Linked DNA regions of Homo sapiens: region 1 is linked to region 2. Evidence: fine-mapped expression QTL. A gene starts in region 2. The other region holds a variant in brackets. All regions are shown on one strand. Distances are from middle to middle. Region 1 overlaps ALDH7A1 (aldehyde dehydrogenase 7 family member A1). Region 2 holds the start of ALDH7A1 (aldehyde dehydrogenase 7 family member A1).

What was found. PIP is the estimated chance that this variant, and not a neighbour inherited with it, causes the effect.
Region 1: its variant is fine-mapped to the expression of ALDH7A1 in visceral fat (GTEx, PIP 0.96).

The regions. Positions count from the first base shown.
Region 1 is chr5:126,531,644-126,543,607 of GRCh38, reverse strand. ALDH7A1 (aldehyde dehydrogenase 7 family member A1) reads left to right here. Exons shown (of 18, transcript NM_001182.5): 18 at 1-1,767. Among named protein-coding and RNA genes, the nearest start is that of ALDH7A1, 58 kb to the left of the region's middle. The variant G/A (reference allele first, on the strand shown) is at 5,891.
Region 2 is chr5:126,588,907-126,600,870 of GRCh38, reverse strand. It overlaps ALDH7A1 (aldehyde dehydrogenase 7 family member A1), which reads left to right and starts at 5,652. Exons shown (of 18, transcript NM_001182.5): 1 at 5,652-5,864; 2 at 7,467-7,520; 3 at 8,142-8,207. The coding sequence starts at 5,673. RefSeq lists silencers at 1-86, 3,185-3,348 and an enhancer at 1-842.

The DNA.
Region 1 (11,964 bases), 57 kb after region 2:
AATGGCAAATAATTTGGGGTTGAATTATGGCCCAGAGAAGTAAGCAAATGAAAAACTAAACAATTATAAATGTATCTGGGAAGCAAAGGTATTCATAATATGTCCCATGGCCAGCTGCGAGCAGTATTTAACTAGACATGCTGTTGTCAATATTGAACATGAATCAAGCCAAATACTGATATAGCTATTGAGAGAAGGTTGGCAGGAAGAAATCATGGGTGAGGGTATGTGGGAGTGATAATCTTAGCTATAGATTTTAGGTAAAACTGATTCTGAAAGCTTTCTTTGAAACAAATTTATAATTTTTCTTCTACATGTTTCTAGCACAAGGACTCAATTTTTTTTGGTTATAATGTTCATTAAAACATATGCCTTCAATTTGTTCCTCTTTGTTCTTTTTTGCTGATTTAGCAGATATAAATCACTTGTTAGTATTTTTAACTATCCAAGTTAAAATGTACATTTGTAAGTGTTATTACTGGTCTTATATTTGAAGGTGCAAGGGGTCTTGTGCTGCTCATTACTGGTTATCTTGAGCATTTCATAACTGCTGCCTCCTCCTAAATCCTGTGTTCCAACCGCTACTGCTGGCAATGCCCAGCCTCCATTGTGGATGCGGGGAATTGTGTTCAGCATGCTTGCTTCTGCCACGGCACTAAAGCCTAACTTGCTTAGGATCTTGCTGTACTTGGAGAGAGCATCCATTCGCTGAGCCTAGCAGCCAGGCTCTTGTGACTCCCTGGGAAGTGGGTGAAGACCTGGCTCCTGGCTGCAGCAGTGAGGAGGCAGGCCCTCCAGGTGAAGACTTCTCACAATGGAGGGAAGGCAGTTTTCTCAAAGGAAATTGAGTGCTATTATGTACTCTGCTTCCTACTTTCTCTTTCAGGGTGGGAATCTGTTAAGCCTCCTCTCTCTCTTGCTCTGCAACCACAGAACACTTCTTTTTTTTTGGTGTCTCAGTTTTGCCCACACTGGAGTGCAGTGGTGCAATAGTGGCTCACTGCAGCCTCCAACTCCTGGGCTCAATCTATCCTTCCACCTCATGCTCCCCAGTAGCTGGGACTACAGGTGCATGCCACTGTGCCCAGCTGATTATTATTTTTTTTTGTAAAGATTGGGTCATACTACATTGCTCATGCTCGTCTTGAACTTGTGGCCTCAAGCGATCCTCCTGCCTCAGCCTCTTGAGTTGTTGGGATTACAGGAGTGTGCCACCATGCCCAGCTCTGTGGAAAATTCTCTGTGGCATTCTGTCTCCTGAAAATGCTGAAGGGACCAAGAGGGCTCTGTGTCCTTCCTCTTCTCTTCCCTGGCACTTTCAGACCATTTTCTTGTTGCCTTCATTCTAACAAAGGTTGCAGATTGGAAAGCTGATTTGGAATGCTTTTTAAGTGTTTTCAGTTTCAATATTTTTATGAAATTCCTATGGTCTCCAACAAACTTTTTTTTTTTTTTTTTTTTCTACACCTGGAGCTTATCCTGCAGAAGCTTCCTGCCAATGATTGTTTTGGAGGAAATTAAAAGAAAACCAAACGAAACCTCTCCTATCCAAGGGGAAGAACTTTATCCCCATATTGATTGAATATAGGATTCTAGATTTAAAATGTTGTAGGCAGTTAGAGTTTGCTCTTTTTTTTTTTCTATTGGAAAGGTCCACAAATGTTTTATTGACATTTTTGTCTTTAATCCATTTGGATTTGGGGTACATGTTACGATTTGTCTACGTTAATTTCCCTTTTAAAAATAAAAATAATTCCTCAACTCCAATTAGACAATTGGGTTGTCCTTTTCACACTGATACCTCTTTTATAGTACACTGCATTCTTACATATAACAGGATCTGTTTTTAGCTGTGTATCCTGATTCAGTAATTGGTATATGTGTGTGTGTATATAGATAAATAGAATGCCATTTCCCTGTGCAGACGGAAGGGCAAGCTTATTCCCTTTTCTGCGACTACATCTCCTGTCAGGTGTCGCCTCTGCTGTGGCTCTATAGGATTCTGTTAGATAGTGGTGGTCATTGCACAACTCTACAAATATACTAAATGCTACTCAATTGCTCATTTTAAAATGGTTAAAATGGTGAGTTTTATGTTGTATTTTACAATAAGAGAAAAAAACATACAAAGCAAATTAAGCAATAAAAAGGGCAGTTACTAACTCCAGGGAAAATAACATTTGATTCTGTGATCTTTTAAATTTCTTCTACTTAAATTGTTTTAGAGTTCTACATATATTAGCCATGTGACCTGCAAAAAGTAACCTAATCTCTTTGAACTTCATTTTCTTGTCTGTAACGTGGGTTGTATCAGTTCGGTTTCTTTGTGGCAAGCTGCGGAAACCAATTATGGCTTTAGCAAACATGGTCTGTTTTGGAAAGCCCAGATCCAATTTGCCTCTCCAGAACCACTCTCTGACATTCTCCTGCAGTGTGTCCTTAGGGACTGATCTCTACGGTCCACTTCATCTGGGCTTGCTTTATCCTCTGGCTTCTGATTGTGTTTGGCCAGTGGTAGAAAATCAGAGCAGAAAAAAAAATGTCAGAGTATTAATTTTCCCACTCCTTCCCTGCCAGTCTGTGGTAGTTACTGTCTTTTTTTTTTTTTTTTTTTTTAAGGAAAATGTACACAAAGCGTGTTTATTGGGATGATTTCTCATTCATCCTGATCACGGTTGCTGCTTCCTCCTAAGGAACATTCTTCTGTAAGCTTTGCTTGTCCTTCTGTAGGCTGATAGGACAGTGGAACAGCCAACACACACAACTTTGGGCATGACGAAAGAGCATGGTGACTTGATAGCATCCTGGTCATTTCACATCCATGAAGAAGGAATTGGTTCGTCACCAGGAGCTTCTCATGTTTTCTGGAGAGGCATGAAGGAGATCCTTCTCTAGAGACATCTCGCTGGAAAGCTTATTCCTTTTTCTGTGTCTACATCTCCTGTTAGATGGCCCCTCTGCTGTGGCTCTGTAGATTCTACTAACATGACTCCTTTTTTTTATTCTTTAGTCTGCAAGTGGAGATGGAATTCTGTTGCTATTTTCTGAGTTTGTCTCCTTACCTCTAGGGACCTAGCTAGGTAACAGGTAAAAATCAACTGTCTTGTGGAAACGCCACTGCTAGAATGAGTGAACTTCAACTGTTTTTAGGCTTTTTGTTTCTCAAAATTAAAACTGCAGGAAAGGACCAAGCAATTTGCCTAGCATGGATCATTTACCTTTAAGGTAATTTACCTGCCCCTTGGCAAGGGGAGAGCAAAGCACCTGGATTAATAGTCCTAATGCTGAAATCAAGGACAGATAATTCCCCTAAAAGAAATGAGAGTTGTTATCCTAGGTAAGAAACACAGATGCTGCTAAGCTTAAATAATCTATTTCCACTGTATGAGGATGCTGATAATATCTGTCCCATACAATTGTTAGGATTAAAGCGTAAAATTATAAAAGTTAACAGTGCCTGGTAAGTTCATGATAAGGGCTCAATAAATGTTGGGTACTGTTATTAAGATGTTTTCCACATTCGTTTTCAGCTTTTAATATTTTAATTATTTTCCTAAATAAAATTTAGAAACATTTTCCAGGTTTTTAAAAAATTTCTTTGGGATTTTTATTGGACTCAAATTTATAAGTTAGGAAGAACTAATATATAATACTTAGATCTTAAAAACATCAATGATACGTATTTTGATCAAATTTTTATGGTTCCTAGCAAAATTCTGCAGTTTATTTCATGCAACGTCTTAACAACTTTTGTGTTTATTCCTATATATTTTATGATTTCGGATTTTTTTTTTTAAGTCTCTGTTGCCCAGTCTGGAGTGCAGTGGTGCTATCTCAGCTGACTGCAACCTCTGCCTCCCGGGTTCAAGTGATTCTCATACCTCAGCTTCTGGAGTAGCTGGGATTACAGGTGCGCACCACCATGCCTGGCTAATTTTTGTATTTTTAGTAGAGACAGTGTTTTGCCATGTTGGCCAGGCTGCCTTGGCCTCCCAAAGTGCTGGGATTACAGGTGTGAGCCACCGTGCCCGGCTCAGTTGTTACGGTGAATGGGATTCCCCATCTTATGCATAAATTACTGCAGAGACCAGTTACTTCCTAAGGTAGATTAGGTTTGAAAATAGAAATATAGATCCAACAACTACTCAATGTTTGCTATTTGCTTGTTGAGAATCCTTACAGCCTGGCAATTCCAGGGTTATAGAAATCTGGCCCACATTCAGATATAATTGAATTGTCTTTACAGTGTTGACCTGTAGGTGTCACTGTTGGTCAAAGCAATCATCTGTTTAGCAGGGAAGTGAGTTGTGTTGACTTTGTATCCAGGAGGTCACCATGGAAAAGTTTTTGCAGTCAACAGACAATGCCCCACATTTATGAGCTGCTTTACTTTCCAGCACCATTGGTAACTTGCCTTTCCTACTGCCTATAATTGCAGGTTTGTATCTTTTAAGTTAAAAATGTGGCTGGACGTAATGGCTTATCCCTGTAATCCCAACATTTGGGGAGGCTGAGGAGGGAGGGTTGCTTGAGCCCAGAAATTTGAGACAAGCCTAGGCAACATAGTGAGACCCTGTCCTAACAAAACAAAACTTTTTTTAAAAAAATTTTCCATCCATTCTTCTTTCCCTGCAGTGAGCATATGTGTGAGGTTATTCCATTTTGAATAACTCCATGGGTCATTCGTTTTATTTACACTTAAATGATGCTTACTGTGTTCCAGGCACTTTTAAAAGCACTTGGCAAATATAAACCCATGGAATTCTCATAACCCTAGGAAATAGATACTATTATGATCTTCACTTTATTGATTTGGAAACTGAGGCACAGAGAGGTTGAGTAACTTTCCCCAAGTCACACAGCTGATAAATGATGGGGCTGAGATTTGAATCCAAGTAGCCTGGCCTCATAGTATTCTTGTGAATGTGAATAGTGTCCCTGAAATAGCAGAGTTCTTATTTGCTCACCTTCCCTGTCTGACTCTTAATTGTTGACTTTTCCTTTTTTTTGCAGTGTCTTTTATTGTGACATAATCGTAACTTAAAGAAAAGTTGCAAGTACATAGAACTTTTCCCCCTAAATTATTTGAGAATGTTGTTGATCTGATGCCCTGTTACTCCCAAATGCTTTAGTGTATATTTCCCACAGACAAGGACATTTTCCTGCATAACTACATTACAACCATCAAAATCAGAAAATTAGGATTGATGTGTGTATTAGTCTGTTCTCACAGTGCTATAAAGAACTACCTGAGACTGAGTAATTTATGAGAAAAGAGGTTTAATTGACTCACAGTTCCACAGGCTGTACGGGAGGTGTGGCTGGGGAGGCCTCACGAAACTTATCATGGCGGAAGGCGAAGGGAAGCAGGCATGGTCTTCACGTGGTCGGAGCCGGAGGAAGAAAGTGAGGGGGGAAGAGCTACACACTTTTTTTTTTTTTTTTTTTTTTTGAGACGGAGTCTCGCTCTGTCCTCCAGGATGGAGTCCAGTGGCGTGATCTCCGCTCAGTGGTGCGATCTCTGCTCACTGCAAGCTCCGCCTCCCCTCCCGGGTTCACGCCATTGTCCTGCCTCAGCTTCCCAAGTAGCTGGGACTACAGACGCGTGCCACCATGCCCGGCTAATTTTTTTGTACTTTTAGTAGAGACGAGGTTTCACCGTGTTAGCCACGATGGTCTGGATCTCTGACCTCGTGATCCACCCACCTTGGCCTCCCAAAGTGCTGGGATTACAGGCGTGAGCCACCGCGCCCGGCCGCGCTACACACTTTTAAACCACCAGGTCTCTTGAGAACTCTATCACAAGACAGCACTATGGGGATGGCGCTAAACCATTAGAAACCACCCATATGATCCAATCAGCTTCCACCAGGCTCCACCTCCAACAATG[G/A]GGATCACAATATGTAAGATTCGGGTGGAGACACATAGCCGAATCCTATCAACGTGTTACTAATATCTAATCCTCAGATCCCGTTCAACTTTTGCCCCTTGTATGTTGTCATATCTCTTTAGTCTCTTTTAGTCTTCTCTTGACTTTCATGCTTTTGAAATTACACGCCACTTATTTCATAGATCATCCCTCGACTTGACGTTTCCTCATAATGTAATTCAGGTTGTGCATCTTAAGCCCTACACTCACAGAGAAACACCGTATTCTCACCTGCATCCTACCAGGCAGTGTGTGATGTCATTTCCGTTTGCCCATACCAATGATATTAACTTTGATTCTTGATTAAGGTGGTGTCTGCCAGCGTTCTCCCCTGTGAAACATCTCTTTTACCCTTTGTAAATTAATAGGTCTTTGTGAGGGGAGATACTTTGAAACTATGAACCTGTCCTGCTCTCCATCAAACTTTCCATTGATTCACTTATTTATATTTGTATGTACTTAAATTTTTCTATTTTATCCAATGAGTTATAATCCATTTATTACATTACTTACTTTGATGCTCGAACTAAATTTTTATATCCCTGATTTGGCCAGCAGGACTCCCTTCAAGCTGGCTTCACTGTCCTTTCAACACGTTCCTGTCCTTCTCTGAGCACTTCCTTTCTTTTTGGCACAAGATGTTCCAGGTTCAGTTTGTACTTTTCCTGCCCAAGCCCTAGAATCAGCCGTTTCTTCAAGGATCCCAGGTCTTTTTTGGTAAAGCATCATGTTTATAAGCCAGAGTCTAGTGTAGGGATGCCTGTTGATGTGGGCATGTCACTGCTCCCAGGCCCTTGCAGCTGGCAGACATTTACATCTACATTTATTTATAAATCTGTTTATATGGACAAGTGTGAGTTTACATAAAACTTCCGAATCCTATCCAACACCACAGCGTTCCTTTTTAGTTTTCCCTTTCACTATCTGCAACTCTTGTCTCTGATGAGAAACCTGCCTCACTACCCTTGATGCATTTTTTTGTAGATCACTCCTTGTGTATCACTTATCTCCCATCTCATGAGGACGCCCTCCCCACCTCTCTCCGGTTCTGATGGTGCTGGACTTGTCCTTACATGAGTGCCCTCATCACCTAGTTGAGGCTCTGACACCCATGTACAGCTCCTCTACGTGGAGGCACTCTTCTCACCCATCTAATGGCTTCAGGACTGAATTGTTTGGGAAGAGAAGAGGTAGAGAAAGAAGAACTGATCTTTCCTTAAATGCAGAATTTTGAGTCAGAATCAAAATAGTACTTGACTGCCCCATGCTTGCTCTGGGGCAGAAAGGAGAGATGCCTGGACTTAAGCTGGAAGAGTGGAATAGGAGGAGTGGGCACAGGTCCCGGAGGTAGAGCACCTGCATTCCAGGCACAGCTCTGTTTCTAAGGGGCCAAATGATCTTAGAGAAGTAATTTGATCTCTTTGTGCCCCAGCTCTTCCAATAATGAATTGGACCAAATCTAAATCAAAGACTGGTGCCCTATGGCCAAAATTGGTCTAAGTGCTTATTTTGTTTGGGAGTCAACTTCCTTTCTTTCTTTCTTTTTTTTTTTTTTTTTGAGACAGGTCTCCCACTGTTGCCCAGGCTGGAGTGCAGTGTTGTGGTCATGGCTCACTGCAGCCTTGACTGCCTGGGCTCAAGTAATCCTCCCACTTCAACCTCTCAAGTAGCTGGTACCACAGGCGCATGCCACCATGCCTGGCGAATTTTTGTATTTCTTGTAGAGATAGGGTTTTGCCATGTTTCCTAGGCTGCTCTCAAAATCCTGAGCTCAAGCAATCCACCCGCCTCAGCCTCCCAATGTGCTGGGAGTGATACAGAGAGGAGGCAGGGAGATACTGCGTAGAAGAGGGTGGTTCCCTGGCAAAGTCCCCACCCTGAAGCTTGGAAACCCACGGCCCTAAATGGGAAGAAGCATTCCTGTTTTTGTGCCCAAATGTTGCTTTTTGGCCCACCATGCCCCCCATCCTGTACCCATATAAATCCCAAACCTCAGGCTCCACGAGCAGAAGAGCAGAGGAGCATAAGAGCAGTGCAGCAGAGAAGGAGAGAAGGGAAGGAGCATCTGAATGTTGAGAGGAGTTTGCCTGGGGATGATAGGAGAGGAGATTGGCTGTGGGTCTGCCTAACTCCAGGGGAAGATCATCTTCCCACTCCATCCCCTCGCCAGGTCCCCATCCATCCCGCTGAGAGCCACCTCCATCTGGCAATAAAATCCCCCTCATTTACCATCCTTCAATTTGTCCGTGTGACCTGATTCTTCCTGGATGCCGGACAAGGACCCGGAGAGGGCACTGAGCTAGTTAACACTTAAGCCATCTGTGACGGCAGAGCTAAAAAAGTACTGTAATATGCCCACTGGGGCTTCAGAAGTTACAGGCACCCACCCCTAGATGCTACTGTGGGGTCAGAGCCCAGAAGCGCTTGCCCCAGCTCCTGCGTGCTCCCCCTCCTCTAAGGGGTTTGAGTGCACAGTGGCCGAACAGATGAGCCACATTCGGTCACACGTCTCTGAGGGGGGTCAGGGAACTCTCCCATTTCAGGATTATAGGCGTTAGCCACTGCACCAGGCCAGGAGACAACTTTCAAAAAAATCAAATTTAAGTTTCTTTAGTTGGAGGCTGTGCACTCCAATTAGCCCTAGATGGGTGACAGCTCAGACCATCTTTCCCAACTTTATACATTTCTCTCTCCAGGCTAAGTTACATTTCAAGCCTCTTCTAGCTCAGCATGGCCTCTTCTCCATTTGCTATGCTCTGGCTCAGCAGATTCTTAATCTATGGCACCAGGCCTGTCAAGAGACCTGCATTTGATTCCCAACTTTTAGCCAGGAAACACTGGGAACACCACATCTGAGTGTGTTGCTGCTGCTGGCTTGGGTGGCCAGGTTTTATTCCCTCATTTGGCCCTGCCCACATCCTGCTGATTGGTCCATTTTACAGAGTGCTGATTGGTCCATTTTAGAGTGCTGATTAGTCCATTTACAATCCTTTAGCTAGACACAGAACACTGATTGGTGAATTTACAATCCTCTAGCTAGAGAGAAAAGTTCTCTAAGTCCCCACTCCACCCAGGAAGTACAGCTGGCTTCATCTCTCAGTGTTATTGATGGAAGCGCTTAGAGCTCCCTGCTTTCTGTGTGGAGCTGGTCTAGGCCTGGACCATCCTTGGGGCACTCATTTAATTAAGCGAGGCTCAGAGGTCTGGACTGATGGGTCACCCTGATTCAAAGAGTATTTCTTCAGTAAACAGGGTCTAGGGGAAACCACATAGTCTGGGGGCTAGGGCCCCGTTTGGCAGGTCCAGGGATTGAGCAAGAATGAGCAGAGAAAGGAGACGGGGCTGTGTCTTGAGTCTATAGGCTGGGTCACTGGAGGTATGGTAGGATCTCTAGAGCTGCCTCTAATGACAGCGGAGTCTCTTCAAGAAACTTTTGAAAGGGACCAAATTCTTTTTCTGATTACCTTTCTAGCTTCTCTGGCTGAGCCCCTATGCATTGGATTGACATAGACAGATTAACAAAAGAAAACAATCAGAATTTTATTAGTATGTGCACTGCAATTACATGCGGGAACACTCAGAGATGAATAAACTCAAAGGTTTGGTTGGAACATGGGCTTATAGCATTTTAGCAAAGGACCAATACATTTTTTTTTCTTTTTTTTGAGACAGAGTTTCACTCTTGTTGTCCAGGCTGGAGTGCAATGGCACAATCTCAGCTCACCACAACCTCTGCCTCCCGGGTTCAAGCCATTCTGCTGCTTCAGCCTCCCGAGTAGCTGGGATTACAGGTGTGTGCCACCTCACCCGGCTAAGTTTTGTATTGTTGGTAGAGACGGGGTTTCATAATGTTGGCCAGGCTGGTCTTGAACTCCTGACCTCAGGTGATCTGCCTGCCTCGGCCACCCAAAGTGCTAGGATTACGGGCGTGATCTTCTCAATTGCCTTCAGCTCAAAATAATCCTTATGTCAAAGTGTCATATTTTGAGGTGGCATATTCTGCCAGCCGACAGACCCAAGAACCTTGGCTAGAATGGATTGGTCTTGGATTGCAGTGAGTTGAACCCCTGTACAGAAGTGTAGAAGAAGGAAACATCTTCTAGTTGAGTTTTAGCTTCTGTCTGTTTTGAGCTGGTGAACTCAAATTGTTCACTGAATATTTAAATTCTTTGACTTTCACCTGTGAAAATCTCCTGAATGAAATGAGATATTTGATCCTATTTAGTGGGTCACTGAACATGCTTCTAACATGAAAACATTCAGCTTTGAGCTAGGAAGGTGAGCTGTGCTCACAATCTCAAACAGGGTAGGGGAGAGAAGATTTACATGTTCTGTGCCCTGTGCCCTTTCTTGGGGCCTAGAGGACACATTGACTTATCTTTTCTGGGGATAGTATAAAGGAACATCAACTTGCTCCTATTTTGTGCTGGAGAAGCTTAGAGAATCAGATGCTAGTTTTATACTACATCCCTCAGTATTAAAAGCTTTAATTTAAAAAAGAAAAAATAACAGCTGGGCACAGTGGCTTATGCTTGTAATCCCAACACTTTGGGAGGCTGATGTGGGAGGATCGCTTGAGGTCAGGAGTTGGCGACTAGCTTGGGCAACATAGCAAGACCCTGAATCTACAAAAAGTAAACAAATTAGCCAGACGTGGTGGTGCGTGCCTGTAGTCCCAGCTACTTGGGAGGCTGAGGCGGGAGGATCCTTGAGCTCAGGAATTCAAGGTTGCAGTGAGCTATGATTGTACCATTGCACTCCAGCCTGGGTGACAGAGTGAGATGCTATCTCTGAAAATAAGTGAATAAATAGATAAAAATAAAAAAGGAAAAAAGTTCATCTTTGGCCAAATGTCAACAAAGAAAATAAAAGGAGAAAAAAAGAATTAACGATTCATTGAAAATTTTTTTTCCTTCCTTGAAGAAACAATTTGTTCCAACCTAAAAAATTATGCAAAATCATTGTAATGTTTCCCCGGTGCTTTAAATCCAGATTTCAGGTGCCCCAAAGAGAGAGATCAAGTGATTTTAACCACCTGAAATGAAAAAAAAAAAAAAAAAAAAAAGAGGCCGGGCACAGTGGCTCACGCCTATAATCCCAGCACTTTGAGAGGCCGAGGTGGGTGGATCACCTGAGGTCAGGAGTTCTAGACCAGCTGGCCAACATAGTGAAACCCCGTCTCTACTAAAAATGCTAAAACAAAAATTAGCCGGGTGTGGTGGTGCACATCTGTCTGAGGCCCAAGAATCGCTTGAACCTGGGATATGGCAGTGAGCTGAGATCACACACTGCACTCCAGCCTGGGAGACAGAGTGAGACTCCGTCTCAAAGAAAACAAAAAAGATAAATAAAAAGCATCAGACAATTTTCTATAGCTTCTAGACCATAGAACCTGCAGCAATAACTCAATGAGTTTTTATTCTCATGTTTGCCCTGTGCAAGGAGCAGACCAAGAGAAGGGATTTGCCTGCCCTTGACTTTCTCTGCCATCCACCCCAGCTGCCAGGTAAATCACAAATCATGTAGTATTTTCTGTGAATGCAGGTAAGCTTAGCACCCCTGGCCTCATTCCCTTCCTTTTATTTTTTGACCTCTACATTTAACTATGACTTTTCTGGCGAACACATTGCCTTCTTTCCTCCTCAAGGGATTTCATTTTATTCTTGCTCACCGGAAGCACAGAACCACCCCAGCTGTGGCTAGTTTAGCCTTCCCAGGGCTCTCTCCACTGTGGCCTCCCAGAACTTCTAATCTACACAAGAAGCCTGCCCTACTGTTGACATTTTATAACCTATGTGCCTCTGTGACTAAATGGCTAGAGTTATCACATCTGCTCAGTCCTGCATCTTTATTAAAAAAAACCTGGGCAATGTGCCATCCTCTCTGTCCACCAACAAGATTTTTCTCTGTGAAACGCTTTCTTTAAAGTCTGTGCACAAAAGCATAATTGTTCCCTCAGAGTTGCTAAAATGACTTGAAGGGCTTGAGTTTTTTAGTAGCTTTCAGAAACAAAAGGAGCTTTCTAACTGGACAAG
Region 2 (11,964 bases):
CCCCCGCGCGGAGGCCAGCCTGTCCCAGCGGCCTGAGGCGTCCCATTGCATTCCAACTACCCCGGGAAAATGAATCCCTTGTTCCCCCAACACTTTTCTTCCAAACTTTATTTTCGTGCAAACATAAATATGTCACGTATCGCGGTCGTCTGGGATTCCTCCCTTGGCCGTACATCCTTCCCCTGTATGCTCTGGACAAGCCTCCCCGCTTCTGTTCTTGCTCCTCCACAATCCACTCTACATATTGCTTCCAGGGAAGCCTTTCAAGCTGTATAGTCCGCCCTCTGTATCCACTCCCCATCCACGGATGCCGAACCTGCGGATGGGAAGGACCCACCGTGCACCCCCACATAATGTAAGGGGCTTGAGCATGGCGGATGTTGGTATCTGTGGGGGTCCTGAAAACAATGACCCGCGGATACCTAGGGAGGATTGTACCTTAGCTCGAATCTTCCAAGTGCATCCCTCCCCAAAACAAGGACTGAGTTCTCAGCATGGTGTTTGAAATGTTTGTTTTCCGGTGTCGTAAAGAAATAGCAACATAAATTTAACTTACTGAATAAGGCCATTTTTACTTTCTGCAGAAAGGGTACACTCGCCAGCAGTTTTGCCAGGAGAGTACACTGAACAAAAGGAGACAGGGTCATTTATAACCTGACGTGTTTACCTTACTGCTGTGGCTGGTTTTTATTGGCTGGACCGGACCTCACATTTTGTATTTGTCCCGATTGGCTAGCAACTTAGAACTTTTTAAAAGAGGCAAAGGTAGAGGAGAACAAAGGAAGGAGGAAGTAACTTGTGGAATGCTGAGAAAGATGAAAACACTTTTAAATAAGGAAGAGGAACAGGCTATGACCTAATGCTTGCTTGGACTAGTAAAAGCATGCCAGGGCAAATATTTAGGCTAAATTGTGGGAGCTAAGAACATAAAGTACATTTTTTTTTATTATGGCTAGCAGATATTTAAGAATGTTAGCACAGATCTTTGAATAAATTTTGCTTTTAAGAGAAGTTACTATTTATTCCTAATTAGACGGGGAGGAAAGTTTTTGAAGAGGAACCTCTGTTTTACTTTGCCACATGGCAAACAAGGTCATGTGGACTGGGCATCTGGTCACTGGTCCTAGTGTGTCCCCCTGCCTAACCGCTGGCGCGCTGAACCTGTTGTTCCTCAGGCCAGGCCTCTGCATTTGCTGTTCACTCGGCCTGAGAGGCCCTTCCCTCAACCCACCCCATTCTTTAAGGGTTATCTTGGAACCCGCCTTTGCGAAAATTATAACAGTGAGAAAATTATGGCAGTGGGAGAGATCTGATCTAGCCAACCCCTATCTTGCTTTTAGCCTTCAAGCTGCCCTTAATTATTCCTGTGCTTGGGCCTGTCAATGTAACTTTGGGAGACATTTAGTTTATAGTTTAAATGATAATAACCCTTCCCCAAAAGCCAACCGCCTTTGTAAAGCTAGTAAGAGACCACCAGGGTAGACGGATAAAGGAGGCTGAATTCTGCTAAGGTGTAGACATAAACCGTTGCCAGTCATTATCCCAGAGGTCACAAGGTATGCAACTTTTCCATTACTCTTCCAGATAATATCACTATTGTAGACCCTAAGATTGGCGTTTTGAGATATCTTTTCAGATATTTTGCATGTCTGACTACCAATGGTTCCACCTGAACCTCTAACCGCTTCTGGGTTCCCACACAGAAGTTGTCGAGCTGCTTGAGGACAATTTCCCATACCCCTATGACTGCATCCCCAACCAATAAGCAGCAAGAACCCATTGCTTAGCCACTCCATCCCTTCCCCAAACTATCTTTGAAAAACACTAGTCCCTGAATTCTCCAAGAGATTGATTTGAGTAATAACTCTGTCTCCCACGTGGCATGGGTGGCCTCCTGTCTATTAAATTCTTTCTTCTTTTTGAGACAAGAGTTTTGCTCTGTCTCCTAGGCTACAGTGCAGTGGCAAAATCTCGGCTCACTGCAGCCTCTGCCTCCTGGGTTCAAGCGAGTCTCATCCCTCAGCCTCCCGAGTAGCTGGGATTACAGGCATGCACCACCAGGCTCGGCTAATTTTTGTATTTTTAGTAGAGACGGGGTTTGACCATGTTGGCCAGGCTGGTCTTGAACTCCTGACCACCCTGACTCCTGATCTACCCTCCTTGGCCTCCCAAAGTGCTGGAACTACAGGCGTGAGCCACAGCACCTGGCTCCTCTGCCACTTTTAATACAGAACTGTTTTAAGGTGTCCTGAGTTTAGCCACTGCATTTTCATTTCTACAGGGCTTTGCAGTTTTCAAAGTGCTTTCATATATGATTCATTTAATTCTGTCTCTTCCTGCTCAACCTCATTACAATTCATCATTTCTGATTTTTCCTGAACTCCTGTTAAGCAGGGCTAACAGGAGTTTTGAAAAAAGGATGTAGAAGAAGGATGCAATCCCTGTTTTCAATGTGAGCAGTTGCTGGTGCCTATATTCCCAGAATTGGCTTATTTATTTTTTGAGACAGGGTCTTGCTCTGTCCCCCAGGCTGGAGTGCAATGGTATGATCTTGGCGCTCTGCAACCTCCATCTCCTGGGTTTAAGCGATTCTCCAGGCTCAGCCTCCCAAGTAGCTGGGACTATAGACGTGTACCACCACATCCAGCTAATTTTTGTATTTTTAGTAGAGATGGGGTTTCACCACGTTGGCCAGGCTGGTCTCGAACTTCTGATCACTCAAGTGATCCTTCCATCTTGGCCTCCCAAAGTTCTGGGATTACAGCTATGAGCCACTGTGCCCAGCCAGCCAGAATTGGTTCAGAAGGATGGGCACACTTCTCTTCTTGACTTGAAGAGAGGGCAGCCAACACTCCTTGATGACACTATGTGTTGCTCCTAATCCTTTGTGCCTCTATGTATTTTAATTTCGTTGAAGTGAATGGAAGAGAAGAGAAGGAAGAATGTGGTTTTGGGATATGTGGACAAATAATCTTGTTGGCTGATAGAAAGTGATGAGAATCAGTTAAAATGTCTGAGAATTAGCCGGGCGCGGTGGCTCATGCCTGTAATCCCAGCACTTTGGGAGGCCAAGGCGGGCGGATCACGAGGTCAGGAGATCGAGACCATCCTGGCCAACGTGGTGAAACCCTGTCTCTACTAAAAATTGAAAAATTAGCCAGGTGTGGTGGTGAGTGCCTGTAGTCCCAGCTACTCAGGAGGCTGAGGCAGGAGAATCACTTGAACCCGGGAGGCGGAGGTTGTGGTGAGCCAAGATTGCACCACTGCACTCCAGCCTGGGGACAGAGTGAGACTCCGTCTCTAAATAAATAAATAAATAAATAAATAAAGTCTGAGAATTAAAATTAGAAAAATTAGCACCATGGTCCTCCGTGTAGATGGAAGACAGCAGCAGGGTTGTTGATAGAGATTACCAATGTCAGATAGGGCATTGCAACTCCTTCGACGGTGTTATTCATTGGTTCATTTGTTCATATACTCATGTAAGTGAGCGTAAACTTGGAACAATGCTAGGAACTGTGGAGCAATGCAAAGATGAGTCAGAGATGGTCCTTGCCCTAACAGGAAAAAACTGTAGCATTTACAAAAGGAAGCATCATTCATGTATGCCTAGTACTAACTGCAGTTTCTGGTAGCTGCTTGATACATGCAGAGTGTTTGTTCAAATCATTTGTACTATAAGGGTGGAAGAGATAAAGCTTATGTTTGAATGCAGAGATGAAAGGGGCCAGGAGTGGTGGCTCAAGCCTGTAATCCCAGCTCTTTGGGAGGCGCAAGGCAGATCCCTTGAGCCGAGGAGGTGCGGACCAGCCTGGGCAACATGGGGGAACCCTGTCTCTACAAAAAATCCTCAAAAATTAGCTGGGTGTGATGGCATGCCTGTAGTCCCAGCTACTTGGGAGGTTGAGGTAGGAGGATCACTAGAGCCTCGGAGGTCGAGGCTTCAGTAAGCCATGATCCTGCCACTGCACTCTAGCGTGGGCAAGCATATTTTAAACTCATGTTCAAATAATGATGATTGAGATATTAGTATTTCCGTTTTACAGGGTAGGCCCAGTTGTTGTGAAATGAGATGGGGCATGCATGAATGGAAAGGATATTGTAGGAAGACAGAAATGGAGAATGAAAGAAATTGATCAAAACTGTCTTTATTCTTTAAGAGTAAGAGCTGGGCGTGGTGGCTCACACCTGTAATCCCAGCACTTTGGGAGGCTGAGGTGGGCGGATCACGAGGTCAGGAATTCGAGACCAGTCTGGCCAACATAGTGAAACCCCTTCTCTACTCAAAATACAAAAAATTGGCCAAGCGTGGTGGTGGGCGCCTGTAATCCCAGCTACGCAGGAGGCTGAGGCAAGGAGAATCGCGTGAACCCGGGAGGCGGAGGTTGCAGTGAGCCGAGATTGCGCCACTGGACTCCAGCCCTGGCAACAGTGCGAGACTACGTCTCAAAAAAAAAAAAAAAATGTAAGAATAGGCCGGACACAGTGGCTCACGCCTGTAATCCCAGCACTTTGGGAGGCAGAGGCGGGCAGATCACGAGGTCAGGAGTTCGAGAGCAGCCTGGCCAACAGGGAGAAACCCCGTCTCTACTAAAAATACAAAAATTAGCTGGTGTGGTGGTGTGCACCTGTAATCCCAGCTACTGGGGAGGCTGAGGCAGGAGAATCACTTGAACCTGGGAGGTTGAAGTTGCAGTGAGTGGAGATCGTGCCATTGCACTCCAGCCTGGGCGATAGGGCGAGACTCCATCTTAAAAAAAAAAAAGTAAGAGGCCGGGCGCAGTGGCTCATGTCTCTAATCCCAGCACTTTCGGAGGCTGAGGCGGGCAGATCATCTCAGGTCAGGAGTTCCAGACCAGCCTGACTAACATGGTGAAACCCCGTTTGTCCTAAAAATACAAAAAATTAGCCGGGTGTGGTGGTGCACACCTGTAATCCCAGCTACTCAGGAGGCTGAGGCAAGAGAATCCGCTTGAACCCGGTAGGCGGAGGTTGCAGTGAGCCGAGATCGCGCCGTTGCACTCTAGCTTGGGCAAGAAGAGCGAAACTCCGTTTCCAAAAAAAAAAAAAAAAAAAAAAAGTAAGAATATACCCAGGCAGGATATTTATAGAGGAAATGCAGCAATCTAATATTTATCATTAATTAGAAAACTTTAATTTGTAATCTACCAAAACAGTGAAAACAACCAACCCTTCCCCCGCCCCCCAATACAAACCCTCCGTTGCCTACTCCAGGGACAAGAGGCGTCACCATCGCTGAGGAGCTGGTTAGGAATGTCGGCTCTCCGACCCTAGCCCAGACTTACTGAATCAGAATGTGCATTTACCACGACGACCAGGTCATTACACGCATTTTACAGTTTCAGAACCCCTGCTATAGCCTACTGTACTTCAGCGCCAATATTTTGCTGAAAAGAATTCCCAGCTGGAACTGTGGCTCCCGGAGTCTTTCACCAGATGGCAGCAGCCCACTCCTCCCTGTAGCACTCCCATTGTTCCAGGCAGGATTCAGCCGCAGGCTCCTCCGGAAGACCAGGGGCAGACGGGGCGGTGGCGGGGTCGTGCCCAGTGGGAGGGGTCGGGTCTGCCCAATGGGTTCTCCCGGGCGGGGGGCGGGGCTCTATTTCAGCAGCTCTCAGGGCCTTGGGCTCATCCCGAGTCCCGGGCTCAGTATGTGGCGCCTTCCTCGCGCGCTGTGTGTGCACGCTGCAAAGACCAGCAAGCTCTCTGGACCTTGGAGCAGGCCTGCCGCCTTCATGTCCACTCTCCTCATCAATCAGCCCCAGTATGCGTGGCTGAAAGAGCTGGGGCTCCGCGAGGAAAACGAGGGCGTGTATAATGGAAGCTGGGGAGGCCGGGGAGAGGTACGCGGGCGCTCAAGAAATCTCTGCAGCCGCCGGGGCTCGCTCGAGGAGGCCGGGCGGGCACTGACCTACCGACTCCCCGCTGGCGCTGGATGCGGTAGTAGCATGGGAGATTTTGAAGCTCCACAGTAAAAGTTTTCTCGTGTAGGGTGCCTTTAAAACAAAAACTTAGATTTTAGGTCCTTGTGTGCTATGCAGAATCGACGTCATTTTGGAGCTGTAGGGGCTAAACTTCCCGCGCATATTTAAAACATTATGGTCTACCGGGCGCGGTGGCTCACCCCTGTAATCCCAGCACTTTGGGAGGCCTAGGCGGGCGGATCACCTGAGGTAGCGAGTTCAAGACCAGCCTGACCGACATGGAGAAACCTTGTCTCTACTAAAAAAAATACAAAATAGCCGGGCGTGGTGGCGCATGCCTGTAATCCCAGCTACTAGGGAGGCTGAGGCAGGAGAATCGCTTGAACCCGGGAGGTGGAGGTCGTAGTGAGCCGAGATCGTGCCATTGCACTCCAGCCTGAGCAACAAGAGCGAAATTCCGTCTCAAAAAAAAAAAAAAAAAAAAAAATTAAAACCTTATGGTCTTGGGATCTATGGTCTTGTGAGAAATGTGGCACACTGAGCGGTGCAACTGATCTTAATTTAGAGCTTAACTCTGGCTCTTCAGCTGTGACGTGCACCGCAGGTAACGTTCTTCAGTGTAGTTTTAAGTTATCTTCCTTCCTGAATTCTTTGGGAGTTTGCAAGCTTGGACGTGCCGAAATCTTGCCATGTTGTACGTTGGGCTGTGAACTCCTTTGAGGACTGGATTTTCAGCATTTCTCCATTGCCCAGGGCTTAACACCGCGCCTGATACCCATTACTGCTCAAAACAATGTTTTATAGAATACAATGGAAAGGTAAGGTTATTATCGCCCAGATTTTTTTTTAAAAGAAAGTTTTTTATAGGAGGATGTTATGTAACAGTTAACAAACTTTGTTGGACGTTGTATATTATATAATGAACCTGCCTTGGTAGAGGGAACACGTCTTTTGGTAATCAGTGGCTGTAGGAGATACAGATAATTTTAATTGCTCCTCAGACCTCGGTGTTTCATCCTGATTTCCGTGTGGTATCTGATCATTAGGCTCTTGGAGGCCTTTTTAGCTGTGCCTTGATTTTCCCTTTCATTGTTGACCTGAGACCTCTCCAGTTGGTGTGGACACGGGACTTTCCAACAGTTTTCCTGCCTTGGCCATTTCATCTCTGAGCAGAGGGTGGGCAGAGTAAGGAAGAGAAGAAATAACTAAAACTAGTCAGTTTGGTCTGTTATTAATGGAAAAAGAGACAAAATAACTGCTTATGTTAAGGCTTTTGTTTATATGCCTAATATTGAGATGTCAGAGGCGAGTTTTGCAGAAAGGTAGTTTCTAATGTTTAAGTCAGAAATGAAAGACAACCTCTGTAGAGTGGTTTATATGTAACAGAAGTTAACCTAAGCTTTTTGAGTTTGGGTATTATATCATTTTTTCCTCTCTTGTTTTTCTTCCCCGTTTGGTCTATTCCCTTACTTCAAAAGGGATTACGTTTTCTATACATGATCATCATCCTTTTGTTTTAAGGTTATTACGACCTATTGCCCTGCTAACAACGAGCCAATAGCAAGAGTCCGACAGGTAAGAGTGTGTGTGTGTGTGTGTGTGTGTGTGTGTGTGTGTTTAATTCAAATTATACACAAGGAGTTTGTGCAGGCTTTCTTTAGAGGCAGAAGCCAGTTAGGCAGGTCAAGAATAATATAAAATCACAAATGAAGAGAATAATGTGTTTATTTTTCATTTGTCATTTAGGACTGTCTGGGGGAGACTGTCCTCTCTTGGGTGGGGGCGTGAAAAGGAAAGAACCATAGAAAAGGTGAAGCGTAGAAAGATTAGGCAGGGGGCCATTTAAGGCAGTGCTTCTGAAGTACCTGAGGATTTTGTTAGAATGAAGCTTCTGATTTCCGAAGTCTGGGTTGGAGCTCAAGGTTCTGCATTTCTAATATGCCTTACATGTTCCCAGATGAAGCTGACAGATTTTGCTTTGAAAAGCAAGGTTTTAAAGCATAGTTGGATACCAACCTGTTTTACCGGGTTCTAGCTAGTTTTTGGAAGTATAGACTGTGGGAATCATTCTCAGCCATAAATGTTAGGGAACCCTAGAGATTTCCCAACTCTTTTCTGAAAATATTTTTGTGTTCTAGAAGATCATCATCATTTCTCTTTATTTCCCCCTTTCTGTCCCCCTAATTCTTAATTTAGGCCAGTGTGGCAGACTATGAAGAAACTGTAAAGAAAGCAAGAGAAGCATGGAAAATCTGGGCAGATGTAAGTATGGCCTTTGTTTCTAGAATTCAGAAAAGATCACTTTGCCTATTGTAACCAATGAGATACATAAACATCTGATAAGCAGGTCAGTGCCGCCTTGTTAAAATGTGAGCTCCTTGGGGGCTGTGATACTGTACTAGGGCTCCTGCTGTTTTGGAAACACCTCTGCCATATTTCTAGGGTAGTGCCTTTTTTGTACTTGCCATTCATTGAATGGATAAATTTAAATGAATTAAAACTTTGTGCTGGTATAGTATAAACTTGAGCTGTGAACACTATTCTTCACTGAAATTACTTGAATTTATAATTAAATAGAAAATGAATAGAAGATCTATGCCAGAAATATTTGTTTGCTCCTCCTCTATCCCCCTGCCAGATTTGTCTGGGAGTATCTCAGCAATAGGTCAGCATTCCTGGTTTAAAGAACAACAGCAGATCGCACCTGGTGGCTCATGCTTGTGATCCCACCACTTCAGGAGGCTGAGGCGGGTGGATCATCTGAGGTCAGGAGTTCGAGACCAGCCTGGCCAACATGGTGAAACCCTGTCTCTAGTAAAAATACAAAAATTAGCCGAATGTGGTGGCGCGTGTAATCCAGCCTACTCAGGAGGCTGAGGCAGGAGAATTGCTTGAGCTTGGGAGGCGGAGGCTGCAGTGAGCCAAGATAGCATCACTGCACTCCATCCAGCCTGGGCGACAGAGTGAGACTCCATCTCAAAAAAAAAAAAAAAAAAAAGAGCAGTGGCAGCATCCCTTTCTCAGGGCCAGAGGCTCATGTTCCTTGACTGTCTAATCAGGCTGTGAGGCAGAGTCAGCCTCCTTGGTCTCTGAGTCTCCACCATTGGTTAAATGAGCAAATGTGGGAACTGTGACTGGTGCTGGGCTGGCCACACTGACTTGTCACTAGGTGGGAGCTAGGCTCCTGAGAAGGGGAGAGTAAAGGCGAACTAGGATAGCCTGATTTCCCAACCTTTCCACTACCCCCATCCTCAGTGTGCTTTGTCTTGTAAAAAGAAAAGACTGGGGGTGCCTGTCTCCTGGGAGGGTTAAATGAGTTAATCATTTAAAGTGCTTACTGGAGAGCCTGGCACAGGAAAAGCCTCAATACATTTGAGTTAAACCCTGTGCTGTTGGGTGTGGGACTGCTGAGGGACTACTGAGCTGCAGTATTTTCTCTGAGTGAGTGATTGCAAGGGGGGTTGGGTGGGGTTGGGGTGGATTGCAGAGTAGCAGCCTGTCCAACAGAGCCCTGGGTTGGATGAAGCTTTTTTTTTTTATCAGCCAAGATACGTCTTTGTGTAAAGCATGAAGCACATCTTTCCTCTACTTTAATTATGGATAGAAGTATGGCCTAGGGTTCCATTATACACAATCAAAAGTATCCTTGGGCAGAAAAATACCACTTCCACAAGTAAACAGTGTGCTAGGTAAAGTTCACCCTACCTGGATAGAGAATACTGTCCAAAACAGTGTCCTTCATTGTTTTAAAAACTTACTTGTATTTATTTCTGATCATAAAAGTAATAAATATTCTTTTTTTTTAGAAAAGATTGATGCTGTAAATAAGATAAACAAATTTAGTCCCCTTACCCCAACCTCTGCAATGCAAAATGTTCATTAGGTTTAGGTTTTGGTGCATTTCCTTCCAGTCTTTCATGTATTTATTTCATAGTTGTGATTATTGTACATCCATATATACATGGTGTGTATAAAATTTTGTGACCTGTGATGCTTGCATTCCATACCATCCTAAAGTTATTGCTTTTTTTTTTTTTTTTTAAGACAGGGTCTGGCTCTGTCACCCAGGCTGGAGTGCAGTGGCCCAATCTTGGCTCACTGTAACCTCTGCCTTCTGGGCCTGGGATCCTCCCATCTCAGCCTCCCAAGTGGCTGGGATTACACGTACACACCACCATGCCTGGCTAATTTTTTTGTATTTTTTGTAGAGGTGGGGTTTCACCATATTGCCCAGGGCGGTCTCGAACTCCTAAGTTCAAACGATCTGCCCTCTTTGGCCTCCCAAAGTGCTGGGATTACAGGCGTGAACCACCAGGCCCAGCTGCATAATTTTTTTTAAATTGTTGTTTTCCTATACATACATACTTTTTTCTTTTGAGACGGAGTCTCACTCTGTCACTCTGCAGTGGTGTGATCTCAGCTCACTGCAACCTCTGCCTTTCGGGTTCAAGTGATTCTCCTGCCTCAGTCTCCCAAGTAGCTGAAACTACAGGTGTGCGCCACCAGGCCTGGCTAATTTTTTTAAAAAATATATTCTCCAATTTAAAACTTTTAATTAAAAAGTAAACTTTAACATCAAAAATGCAAACTTGGAGAAGACAGAAAAGATCACACACAAGGCTGTCACTTCACACTTGGAAGGTTGCACAGCGGCCAGGCAGAGGGGCTCCTCACTTCCCAGACAGGGCAGCGGCCGGGCAGAGGCGCTCCTCACTTCCCAGACAGGGCGGTGGCCGGGCAGAGGCGCTCTTCACTTCCCAGACAGGGTGGCGGCCGGGCAGAGGCGCTCTTCACTTTCCAGACGGGGTGGCAGCTGGGCAGAGGTGCTCCTCACTTCCCAGACAGTGGCAGCTGGGCAGAGGCGCTCTTCACTTTCCAGACGGGGCGGCAGCTGGGCAGAGGCACTCCTCACTTCCCAGACAGTGGGCAGCTGGGCAGAGGCGCTCCTCACTTTCCAGATGGGGCAGCAGCTGGGCAGAGGCACTCCTCGCTTCCCAGACATTGGGCAGCTGGGCAGAGGTGCTCCTCACTTCCCAGACAGTGGGCAGCTGGGCAGAGGCGCTTCTTACTTCCCAGATGGGGCGGCAGCTGGGCAGAGGTCCTCCTCACTTCCCAGATGGTGGGCAGCCGAGCAGAGGCGCTCCTCACTTCCCAGTCAGTTGGGTGGCTGGGCAGAGGCACTCCTCACTTCCCAGATGGTGGGGCGGCCGGGCAGTGGCGCTCCTCACATCCCAGATGGGGCGGTGGCTGGGCAGGGCGCTCCTCACTTCCCAGACGGAGTGGCAGGCCTGGCTAATTTTTGTATTGTTAGTAGAGACAGGGTTTCACCATACTGGCCAGGTTGGTCTCGAACTCCTGAACTCGTGATCCACCCACCTTGGCCTCCCAAAGTGTTTGGATTACAGGCGTTAGCCACTTCACCTGGCCTTCCTATACATATATACTTAAAAAAAACAAAAACAAAAAAATAGACCAGGCACGATGGCTCACGCCTGTAATCCCAGCACTTTGGGAGGCCAAGTGGGCGGATCACCTGAGGTTGGGAGTTCGAGACCAGCCTGACCAACATGGAGAAACCCCGTTTCTACTAAAAATACAAAATTAGCCAGGCATGGTGGTGCGCGCCTGTAACCCCAGCTACTTGGGAGGCTGAGGCAGGAGAATCACTTGAACCTGGGAGGCCGACCTTGCAGTGAGCGGAGATTGAGCCATTGCACCCCAGCCTGGGCAACAAGAGCAAAACTCTGTCTCAAAGGAAAAAAGAAATTAATAGACTTTTATTTTTTACAGCAGTTTTAAATTTACAGAAAAACGAGTAGAAAGTACAGAATTCCCATTACTCCCTCATTCCTCTTCCCAAGTTTCCTTTTCTTCTTTTTTTTTTTTAAGACAGAGTCGCCCAGGCTAGTGTACAGTGGCATGCTCACAGCTCACGGCTCACTGCAGCTTTGACCTCCTGGGCTCAAGCAATCCTCCCACCTCAGCCTCCTTGGTAACTAGGACTACAGGCATGTTCCTC